2 separate regions of the Homo sapiens genome follow, and region 2 is linked to region 1. Evidence: fine-mapped expression QTL. A gene starts in region 1. The other region holds a variant in brackets. All regions are shown on one strand. Distances are between the middles of the regions. Region 1 holds the start of CAMKK1 (calcium/calmodulin dependent protein kinase kinase 1). Region 2 overlaps CAMKK1 (calcium/calmodulin dependent protein kinase kinase 1).

The links. PIP is the estimated chance that this variant, and not a neighbour inherited with it, causes the effect.
Region 2: its variant is the best candidate, but not a certain one, in a credible set for the expression of CAMKK1 in whole blood (TOPMed, PIP 0.53).

Annotation. Positions count from the first base shown.
Region 1 is chr17:3,890,419-3,895,778 of GRCh38, forward strand. CAMKK1 (calcium/calmodulin dependent protein kinase kinase 1) reads right to left here and starts at 2,635. Exons shown (of 16, transcript NM_032294.3): 1 at 2,521-2,635. RefSeq lists silencers at 1,942-2,191, 2,332-2,511, 2,542-3,081.
Region 2 is chr17:3,868,069-3,873,362 of GRCh38, forward strand. It overlaps CAMKK1 (calcium/calmodulin dependent protein kinase kinase 1), which reads right to left. Exons shown (of 16, transcript NM_032294.3): 12 at 4,486-4,559; 13 at 1,733-1,820; 14 at 1,419-1,547. Among named protein-coding and RNA genes, the nearest start is that of CAMKK1, 22 kb to the right of the region's middle. RefSeq lists enhancers at 1-228, 229-728. The variant T/C (reference allele first, on the strand shown) is at 2,398.

The DNA.
Region 1 (5,360 bases):
TCCTCATCCTCCACACCAGGTCTGTGCCTCCAGCCCCACTCTTTCCAGCTAGCTGCCACCTCCCCGTCCATGTTCCCGAGCAGCTCAGATCCAACAGGCCCCAGATTCAACTCAGCATCTTCCCCAAACCTGCTCGTCCTCCTCTGTCTCCATTGCGAGACGGGTACCACACCCTCCCCATTCTTTCCTGACCCAGGTCAGCAATCCGGGAGCCCTCCTTGTCACTCGTCCTTTCCCTGTTGCCCACCCTTGCTCCCCACAACCCCACACTTACTCTCCACTGCAGCCACACCACAGCTTCCCAAATTGCATACTCTGTTCTGCTGCCAGGCCTCAGTACAAGCTGTGCCTTCTGCCAGGAACACACCTCCCTCTCCTCTGCTGCCTGGAGGACAGCTCAGACATCGCCTCTTCTGAGCCCTCCTTGATCTCCCCACTACCTGCTGGGTGAGCTCACCAAGTCAAACCCCTTAGAAGTCCAGATTCTACCCACTGCTTCGTTTCCCACTATGTGGGTCTTCCCTGACTCCAGGCTAACACCTCCACCCCACCCTACCCCATCCTCCACACCAGCTGCTGGAGGGATTTCCAACATGCAAATGTGGTTATAGTTCTCCCAGACCTGGCCTTCCAGGAACTCGGAATGTCATGGATAGAGGAGCAGAAGTGGCCTCAGACTGGGGGCAAGGTTGGGGGGGGGGTCACAGGCTAGGGAGCAGCCAGGGACATGGACGCCTGGGATGCAAGCACAAATAGTCACGGAGCACCTGCTGTCTGCCAGACTCTGTGCAAGCCTGTGTGGGGAGATACAGCAGTGAACCAAAAAGACCAAGTCTCTGCTCTCATACAGTTTAATTTCTCGTGGGGGCAAGAAGCAACAAACAAGAAAGCCAGTGATTCAGATATGATATGTCAAGTGGTACATATAGGAAGAAAAATACAGCCGAGTAAGAAGGATCAAGAGAAAGGGGCTGGGAGATGCTGCTGATACAGTGTAGTTGAGGAAGGCCTTTTGGGAGCAGGACTGGAGCAGACACCTGAAGGAAGGAAGGGGCAGTAGGCAGTGTAGTTATCTGGGGAAGAGCATTTCAGGTGCAGGGACCAGCAGGTGCAAACGCCATGAGGGGACAGTGCTTGCTCAGTATGAAGAACAGCAGGGAGGCTGACGTGGCTGGAGTGGAGTCTTCCCCACATAAGAGGCACCTGATAGCAAGAGGAGTTACATCTGGAGAGAAAGCCCCCTCACTCATTGTGCTGGCCTCAGGGATGGCTTCCTAGAGGAGGTGGCACCTGAGCTCTCTTCTGAGCACTGAGCAGGATTTCAGGATGAGGCGAGGATGGAAGTTTGCACTGTGCATATAGGAGAGTCATTTCCTGGCTGGGACTCCGGGCTTGGTTTGGGGGTGGGGAGAGCTTGGTGGACAGAGCCCAGGAGGCCCCCAAAGCCAGGGGGAGGTTGTGAGCAGGGGAGTGCCTCGGTTAGGTGAGGTTTAAAACGACTCCCATGGCTGCTGTGAGGACTGACGGTGGGAGACCGAGGAAGAGGCGAAGGGTCCCCAGAGTGTGTGCGCCTGGGACGCAGTGGGGGGTCAATTTGTATGTACTGGAGGAAAGAGGGCAGGGCTTGGGGAGGCCAGCGCCACTTCCCTGGGATCCTCCAGCGCGCACAGGCTGTGTGCCCCTCCCACACTCCTGTGCCCGCCCTGCGGACACCACCAAGGCCCGGTCCTGTGGCCTGTGACACAGCCTTCTCTGCACAGCCCTGCAACGCCAAGACTTGAGCACACCCCCTCCCCTGACAGGCACACGCCCGTGTCCGCGTGACCCGCCCTCACACACCACTCCATCCTGTCCTGCACCCCCCACGCAGACACAGGCACACTCCCGCGTCCACGTGACACACGCACACCCGCCTCCAAACAGCACACGCAGGTCCCTGCGCACGTGGACACCCCCCCAGCCACCAGCCCTGCGCCTCCCGGGCCCCGAAGCCGCAGCGCCCGCCTCTGCCGCCCCCTCTCGCCCCAGCCAAGGCAGGACCCTGCGCAGCCTGAGCCGCGCGCCGCCGCCGCCCCATTCATCTCCCACCCCGCCCCCGGCTCCTGCAGGAAGACGCTCCGGCGGGCCGTGGGAGGAGCGCTCCGCGGAGAACCGCACGTGGGTGCCCCGGGCCGGGCCCACTCCGCACAGACGTGGCCTCCACCAGGAGCCGGGCGCGGGGGACAGTGCACCGGGGATGGATGCGGTCCGCAGACAGAAGCGGGGAAGAACGCAGACGGCGGGGCACCCGCGGCGATGCGGTCCCGGCGGCCGGCGCAGACCCGAGCAGACTCCGCGAGGCACCCCGCAGACCCGGCCCCGCAGACAGAAGGGGAAGGATCCCCGCCCTGACCAGATCCCAGCTCCCTCGTAGACGCGGCCTGGCAGACCCCCCCCGCCTCTCCCTTGCAGGCTCGGGGCAGGTGTTAAGGCGTTCGTCCTCCTGCTCCTCGCCCGCGTCCCCGCCCCGCCGATCCCTACCTGGGCGCCGGGCGACAGTGTCCGCGGCCCGGCGGGCGGCCCCACTCGCTCCTGCTGCGCGCCCCGCCCCGCCCCGCCCCGCCCCACCGCCTCGCTGGGGCCCAGATCGCCGAGCTCAGCCCGCGGGCGCCGCGGCTCCGGGCAGCGCTCGCTGCCCCGCCCACCGCCGCGCCCGGCCGGCGCTCATTGGTCGGAGCGAACGGCCCCGCCAGCGCCGCCCAATCGGAGCCCGGGACTCCCGCCCCCTCCTGGACTAAGGGACCGCGGTGGGCGGCGCGGTAGGGGCCCTCCCTCCCCTGCGGCGGGGCCGACCTCGCCACGCCCCCGGCGTCCTGGGGTCCCCGAAGTCCCTCCCGGCCGCGGCGTGGGCCCTTCTCCTGGGCCTGCAGGGGACCGTGCTTCCCCGCCAAACCCTTTGCGCCCCCATCCCGGCCTGCAGGAGCCAGAGCGCCCCTCCCTCCCGGGCGAGGCGCGGTGCGTGCGAGGGAGGGGCGAGGCCCGGGGAGGAAGGCCTTGAATGGCAGGCCCAGGAGTGTAGCTTCTGCGGGGCGGGGGCAGAGAGGCCGAGAGGTGGCTTAGCACAGAGTGAAGTGCTTGCTCGGTGAGCCGGCGACAGGAATGGCCTAGCGAGGGCCGAGGGAGTAGAGGGAACTCAGCAGGACAGTGAGGTGACCTTCGCTGTGGCTGTTCCTGGGGACTCTGCCGCCACCTCTTCCCCTAACGCCTCCGCGTGTGAATCCTCTGGCACCACCACTTGCCCCATATCCTTCCCCCAAATCTAACCTCCTGCGTCCCTGTCTCGAAGTGGAGCCAGGAGCCTGGGAGTCACCTGCTGCCTCCCTGTTTCCTGCTCCAACCAGTCCATCTCCAGGCCCTGCCATACTGCCTCTTAACTATCCCTGGAATCGGCCCACTCCTCTCCACCCCACTTCCCCTCCCTTAGCTCAGGCTACCACCATCTTGTCCCTGATTGCTGCAGCAGCCTCCTCCCTGGCCTCCAGCCCCATCCAGTCTCACCTCCTACTAGCCTTTCTCTCCCTGGCACCCAGAGCAAGTTTTCAGGAACACAAGTCCACCGAGAGGCATTTTCTATGGCTCACCGTGAGAATAGGTCTAATCAAGCCCTGTATAGCCTTACTCCCAGCCACCTGCCTGTTTAACGCCTACTCGTCTTTCAGGGTTCAATTCAATCCTACTTCTGCCTGGAAACCTTCTCCATGACCTCCCCACTTCCAGCATGGGTTAGTGGCCCCACCCAGGTACTTCCTTGTACCTGGCATCTGTTTACCTGCTGGTTCCTCATTGGGACTGGGAGCTCCTGGATGGCAAGCACTGTGCCTGATTCGTCCAGCACACAGCCTGTCGCATGGCACAGGTGCTCAGTGGATGTTGTTGAATGAATAATTCCAGCAACTTGAGTGTGGCTTTTGACCTCATGGTTCAGGATACCAGCTAGAGCTCCAGCAATCACATAACGCATTCCAGGCAGTGGAGTGGAGAAAAGGATGAAGAAGAGGGCAGAGGGTCTGCACCAGCTCTCTTTTCAGGAAAGTTCCCAGAAGTTGCCACGTGGCACTTTCACATACACCGCTTGAGCTTACTTAACATGACCAGACCCAGCTGCAAGAGAAAGCTGGGAAATGCAGCTTCCATTCTGGGCAGCCACATGCCCAACCAAGAACCAAGGACTGAATTGCTACCGGGAGAACAGATATCCGGAACAACTAGTGGACTCCACCATTGAGAGGGTGGATAGATTGAGGGGCAGAGCTCGACTGTATGCCAGGTGCTGTTTACAGGTCTTTCCTCAACCCTACTAAAAGCTATTATTGTCCGGGTGCAGTAGCTCATGCCGGTAATCCCAGCCCTTTGGAAGGCTGAGGTGGAGCGTATCATTTGAGCCCAGGAGTTTGAGAACAGCCTGGTCCACATAGTGAAACTCTGTCTCTATTTAAAAAAAAAAAAAAAAAGAAGTTGTTATTATCCTTGACTCACAGAGGAGGCTTGGAGAGTTAAGCCACTTCCCCCAAGGACACACAGTGAACTGTGGCAGAGCTGCAATTGAAACCTGTCTTTTCCTTGCACGCCAGACAGGCTGGGAAGTCAGGAAAGGGTGTGTCCTAGGAGCTGCTGGAAGGAAATCTTTCGACAAGGAAGGCTTGGACAACAATGTGAGAAGCTGTCAGGCCAAGCAGGATATGGGGCCCAAGTGTCTGCTTAAGACTTGGCAACCAGGACACTGCCAGTGACCTTGGCAAGGGCACCTAGGAGAAGTGGTTGGGGTGGAGGCCAATTGCAGAGGGAAGTGTGGACTGGTCTTTCTGGAAGGGTTGCAGTGAGGGGAGAGGGGCAGAGCTGCTGGGGAACCTGGGCCAGGAGGAGGCAGAAGAGGGGGACAGATGTAGGGGTAGGAGAATGGAGGTGGCTTCTGCTGGGCAGCCTCTGGGCTGGGTGGTGAGGCTGAATACAGAGGAGGGACCCTTTTCTGCTCACTTGGAAGGGAAGGGGGCAGAAAGTGCAAAAGCAGGTGTGTCTGGAGAAAGAAGGGGGGGCAGAAGAGGAAGTTCCAGTCTTATAAAATCTAAATGATAGGTCTTGGTTGGGGAAGAGGGCAGAAGGCCAAGGCCCTGAGGGAGATGGCAGGGGCTGGCCTGTGTTGTCCAGTCTGGTAGCCACTAGTCACATGTAACTATTTAAATTAATTAAAAGTAAATTGGGCAGTCATGGTGGCTCCCGCCTGTAATCCCAGCACTTTGGAAGGCCGAGGCAGGCGGATCACCTGAGGTCAGGAGTTTGAGACCAGCCTGGCCAACCAACATGGTGAAACCCCATCTCTACTA
Region 2 (5,294 bases), 22 kb before region 1:
GCAGTCTAACTGATACGTGGGCTCTGGGGGAGAAGCAGGCGCCGTCTAACTGATACGTGGGCTCTGGGGGAGAAGCAGGCGCCGTCTAACTGATACGTGGGCTCTGGGGGAGAAGCAGGCGCCGTCTAACTGATACGTGGGCTCTGGGGGAGAAGCAGGCGCCGTCTAACTGATACGTGGGCTCTGGGGGAGAAGCAGGCGCCGTCTAACTGATACGTGGGCACGGGGGAGATGCAGGCACCGTCTAACTGATACACAGGATCTGGGGGAGACGCAGGCACTGCCTGATTGATACGCGGGCGCTGGGGGAGACGCAGGCCCATCTAACTGATATGTGGGCTCTGGGGGAGACACAGGTGCTGCCTAACTGATACGTGGGCTCTGGGGGAGACGCAGGCGCCGCCTAACTGATACGTGGGCTTTGGGGCCACTCCTCCAATCCAAAGGCTGCCCAGGCCGTTCCCCTGCCTTGTCCTCGGCACCTTGTGCAGTGCCTGGAGAACGGAAGCTCAGTAACTGTCTGGACGGAATGAAATGCTTCTTCCAGTCACGGTGACTGCTGCCGCTGAGCAAGGGCCATCTATTTCTTTCTTTTTTTTTTTGAGATGGAGTCTCGTTCTGTCAACCAGGCTGGAGTGCAATGGCGTGATCTTGGCTCACTACAACCTCCACCTCCCAGGTTCAAGCGATTCTCCTGCCTCGGCCTCCCCAGTAGCTGGGACTACAGGTGCCCACCACTGCGCCCGGCTAATTTTTTTGTATTTTTAGTAGAGGTGGGGTTTCGCCGTATTAGCCAGGATGGTCTCGATCTCCTGACCTCGTGATCCACCCGCCTCGGCCTCCCAAAGTGCTGGGATTCCAGGCGTGAGCCACCGCGCCCGGTATTTCTTTCTTTTCTTTTCTTCTTTTTTTTTTTTTGAGACGCAGTCTCGCTCTGTGGCCCAGGCTGGAGTGCAGTGGCGCGATCTCGGCTCACGGCAAACTCCACCTCCCGGGTTCACACCATTCTCCTGCCTCAGCCTCCCGAGTAGCTGGGACTACACGCGCCCGCCACCACGCCCAGCTAATTTTCTATATTTTTAGTAGAGTCGGGGTTTCAAGGATGGTCTCGATCTCCTGACCTCGTGATCTGCCCGCCTTGGCCTCCCAAAGTGCTGGGATTACAGGCGTGAGCCACCGCGCCCGGCCCCACGCCCGCTATTTCTTTAAATCAGTCACTCTCCTCACCAAGCCTCCTGGTCTCCCGACCACAAGACCTCCCTCTCCATGGGCCTCCAGCAGAATGGCGGCTCCAGTGGCCCAGGATCACAGCTGGCTGGCCAGGCAGGCCTCTGTCCCCCCAAGGAGCCAGGCACAGAGCAAGGCTCAGGTCCCCCAGGCCCTCCAGGACAAGGGAGCATCTACCCCGGCTCTCTTACCACCGTGGTCCAGCTGGGGATGAGCCTGACTGAGTTCTTAACCTCCTCCTCTGTCACCTCCACCACGCTGCAGTGCTCCTCCTCCGAAGGAAGGGGCTCCTCCCCGTTCTTGGTCACCCAAGGGTGCAACTGTCGGGGCCGGGAGGGCAGGGAGAGGGGGAGAGGTCAGGCCATTACCAGAATCACCTGGAGGGGTCCAAAGTCCACAGACTCAAACCCAACACACATGCATCCTGGTGTTGATCCCTCCAGAAAGGGAAAGTGACTCCTGTTTTCTGTGTCCCAGCCCAGCCCAAGACCCCCAGTTCCCCGACCTTGATGTCTGGCACCCCAATTCTCGTCTCGGGATTCTTGTCTAACATCTTCAGGATCAGGTCCTTGAGCTCCTCGCTGATTTCTGGCCTGGAGAGGGCGAAGGAAGGAGAGGAGGGTGGGACCGCTGATGAGGACCCCTTCCTGTCCACCTCTCTTCCCGAAACCTTCGTCCCTCGGATGGGAAGACTGAGTTCCGGACAGCAGGCAGGAATTTCACAACAAGGGCTTGGAGAGCCTTTCCTGAGCAGGAGGTCAAGTCTCCCTCCAGGACAGAGGCACAGACAGAGTTCCATGGGTGCTGGACACCCCAATGGGTGGCAAAGATGGTGAGGAGAGTCGCTTTATGGGACACCAGAGGCCTTCAGACCCACTCACCACCTCGTCCTTTTCTACACCCAGAGAAGATCCTCTCTCATTTGACAGAGGAGGAAACTGAGGCCCAGGGAGGTTAGCAGGCTGGCACAGTGCCAGCCAGAAGAGTGCAGGCAGAGATGGGAGACTCAGATGGGAGGGAGCAGCCCCCTCAGCGCCACATCAGCTCCAACTCTCTCTGCCCAAACCCCAGGGTTCTTTTTTTTTTTTGAGATGGAGTCTCGCTCTGTGGCCCAGGCTGGAGTGCAGTGGCGCAATCTCGGCTCACTGCAAGCTCCGCCTCCCAGGTTCA[T/C]GCCATTCTCCTGCCTCAGCCTCCCGAGTAGCTGGGACTACAGGTGCCCGCCACCGTGCCCGGCTAATTTTTTGTATTTTTAGTAGAGACGGGGTTTCACCGTGTTAGCCAGGATGATCTCGATCTCCTGATCTCATGATCCGCCTGCCTTGGCCTCCCAAAGTGCTGGGATTACAGGCGTGAGCCACCACGCCCGGCCAAACCCCAGGTTTCTTTGCCACCAGTGGTCTTGGGGAGCCCATCCTTCCAAGACTAGGGAGCAGAAAGCCACTCTCAGGACTGTTGACTTCGGTTCCCCCTGTTGTCTTAGATGCTTCATCCCTTTTAAAATTCCTGGGCTGAGGGGAAAGACACCCCTCAGCAGGGGGTATAGCAGGAAGAGAGGCACCAGGGGTACAACTGTGGAGGCAGGGAGGGAAGGCAACCACAGGATGAGGAGGAAATGGACAGAAGCCAGCTGGCTGGTGCTCGGGAAAGGGAGTGAGGCGGCCCCAGACGAGCGGGTGGCAGAACCCGGAGACGTGTGAATGCTAGCGCCAGGGTGTGGCTTTGAGAAGCTTCAGACAAACTTCAGGCAAGAGATGCAGGCAGATTTGTTGTGCTTTATCAGGGCTGTCCCCGCCTGAATGTGTTGGCTGGACTGGAGGGAGGCCAGCAGCAGCGAGACCAGGGGGAAGGTGGCTAGATAAGTCTGGGGAGGGGCCTGAGGCCTGAATGAGGCAAGGGGTATAAGTGGCAACAAGGCCCAGAGACAGGGAAGAGGAGGGCTCAGCAGGGCTTGGGGACCACACAGGAAATAAGCAGAAGAGAGCAGGAGTCGCTGAGTACAAGTCCCGTTTCATTTTCTTTTTTTGTTTGTTGTTTTTTGTTTTTTTTTTTTTGTTTTTTTTTTTTTTTTTTTTTTTTTGAGACAGAGTCTCGCTCTGTCGCCCAGGCTGGAGTGCAGTAGCACGGTCTCAGCTCACTGAAACCTCTGCCTCCCGGGTTCACGCCGTTCTCCTGCCTCAGCCTCTCGAGTAGCTGGGACTACAGGCACCCGCCACCACGCCCGGCTAATTTTTTTTCTATTTTTAGTAGAGATGGGGTTTCACCGTGTTAGCCAGGATGGTCTCGATCTCCTGACCTCGTGATCCGCCCTCCTTGGCCTCCCAAAGTGCTGGAATTACAGGTGTGAGCCGCCGCACCCGGCCTTATTCAGTTTCTTTCTTCTGTTTTTTTTTTTTGAGACAGAGTCTTGCTCTGTCGCCCAGGCTCACTGCAACCTCTGCCTCCTGGGTTCAAGCAATTCTCGTGCTTCAGCCTCCCGAGTAGCTGGGACTACAGATGTGCGCCACCACGCCTGGCTAATTTTTGTATTTTTAGTAGAGATGGGGTTTCACCATGTTGGCCAGGCTGGTCTCTAACTCCTAACCTCAGGTGATCTGCCCACCTCAGCCTCCCAAAGTGCTGGGATTACAGGCGTGAGCCACCGCACCCGGCCTCCATTTCACTCCTGAAATCCACTGCTGAAAAGAGGAGCCTGGGAGCTCAGGCTGTGGCTGCCACGGTGGCCGTCATGAGGCGAACCATGCATGAGCAAGAGGCCTCCCCGACGTCCCTGCTACGCTCAGAGACCTCGGTCACAATGGGAAGAGTGGGGAGGAAGAGTGGCTTGAGTCCCAGCCCCCTGACCGCTCTCCTCCAGAGCATCCTCTTTTCCATCTGTGAAATGGGGAGCACGCACTGGCATCTTGAAGTTCCCTGACCCTGAGTGGGGGAAGGAGAAGTTCCCCTTGAGTCCAGGGGCTGGGTGGGGCTGGCGCCACTGACCCCAGGCAGGCCTGCGGTGAAGGAGTGGTGTGAATGATGCCTGTGGTCATCCCTGGCCAACCCTGGATCTCAGGGTTCCCATCCACACAGTGACGTTGCGGAGACCCTTGGCTCCAGAGTCCCTCCCGTCCATCTATTCAGGGGTCCCTCCCAGGGAACAGCACCGCCACCTTCATATCTGCAGGCTGGGGTGGGGTCCTCAGAGGGCAAAAGCTCTGCTAAAACTCAGACACCAGGAGCGGGTGGTAGCCCCCTTGTTCCCCTGGGTGGACAACTCACTCCTCAGGAAACACCACGGGCTCATTCTTGATCTTCCTGTGGAGGGCCAGGATGAAATCGTCGATGAATGGGCACTGTGGGGTGGAGAGGCAGACAAAGGATGTGGGTCCAGGGCCTCGACCTGTGCCAGGGGATCAACCCCCCTCCCTTGGTGGGGGCAGGGGTAGGGGGCAGGTCTGGGCTCCCATTACATGAGAAGGACCTCAACTCACACTGTAAATGTTCAACAAATGTTGACTGAATGAATGAGTTGCTGAGGGAACAATGAGGCTGGGTGCATCCACCGCCGTTACTGCCACCCGCGGCCAGGCCAGGCCAGGCTGGGTGCACCCACCACCATTACCGCCACCTGTGGCCAGGCCTCCACTCCCAGGGCCTGGGGCTTGGGAACATGTTCACTGAAATTCCCCCCTGCCCCTTAGTGTGGTCACCAGAGCAGGCACACCTGCGGGCAGGGATCACCGATACGTCAGCGTTGGGTGTCCCCAGGGTCCAGCCTCAGCCAGGGTAGGGGTGAAGGACAATTTGTCGAATAAATGAGCAAGGGAGTGAACACATGGCTCAATAAGTGAATGGCGTCAAGGGACAGAGGGACGGGGAGCACTCTGGCTGGGGCGGTGGCAACACCATCGTCGGCACCTCCCCTTAGGTGTCTGCTGTCCTGCGACTCCTTCGCGAGAATCGCTCCGCAGGGGACCAGAGAAAGATAGAAAAAGCCTCTTCTCTCTCAGCCTTCTCTGAGCCAGGTGGGCTCTTTCAAAAGCCACTTAAGGACAAAAAGGAAGAGCCTGCATCCGTCGCCCGTGCCC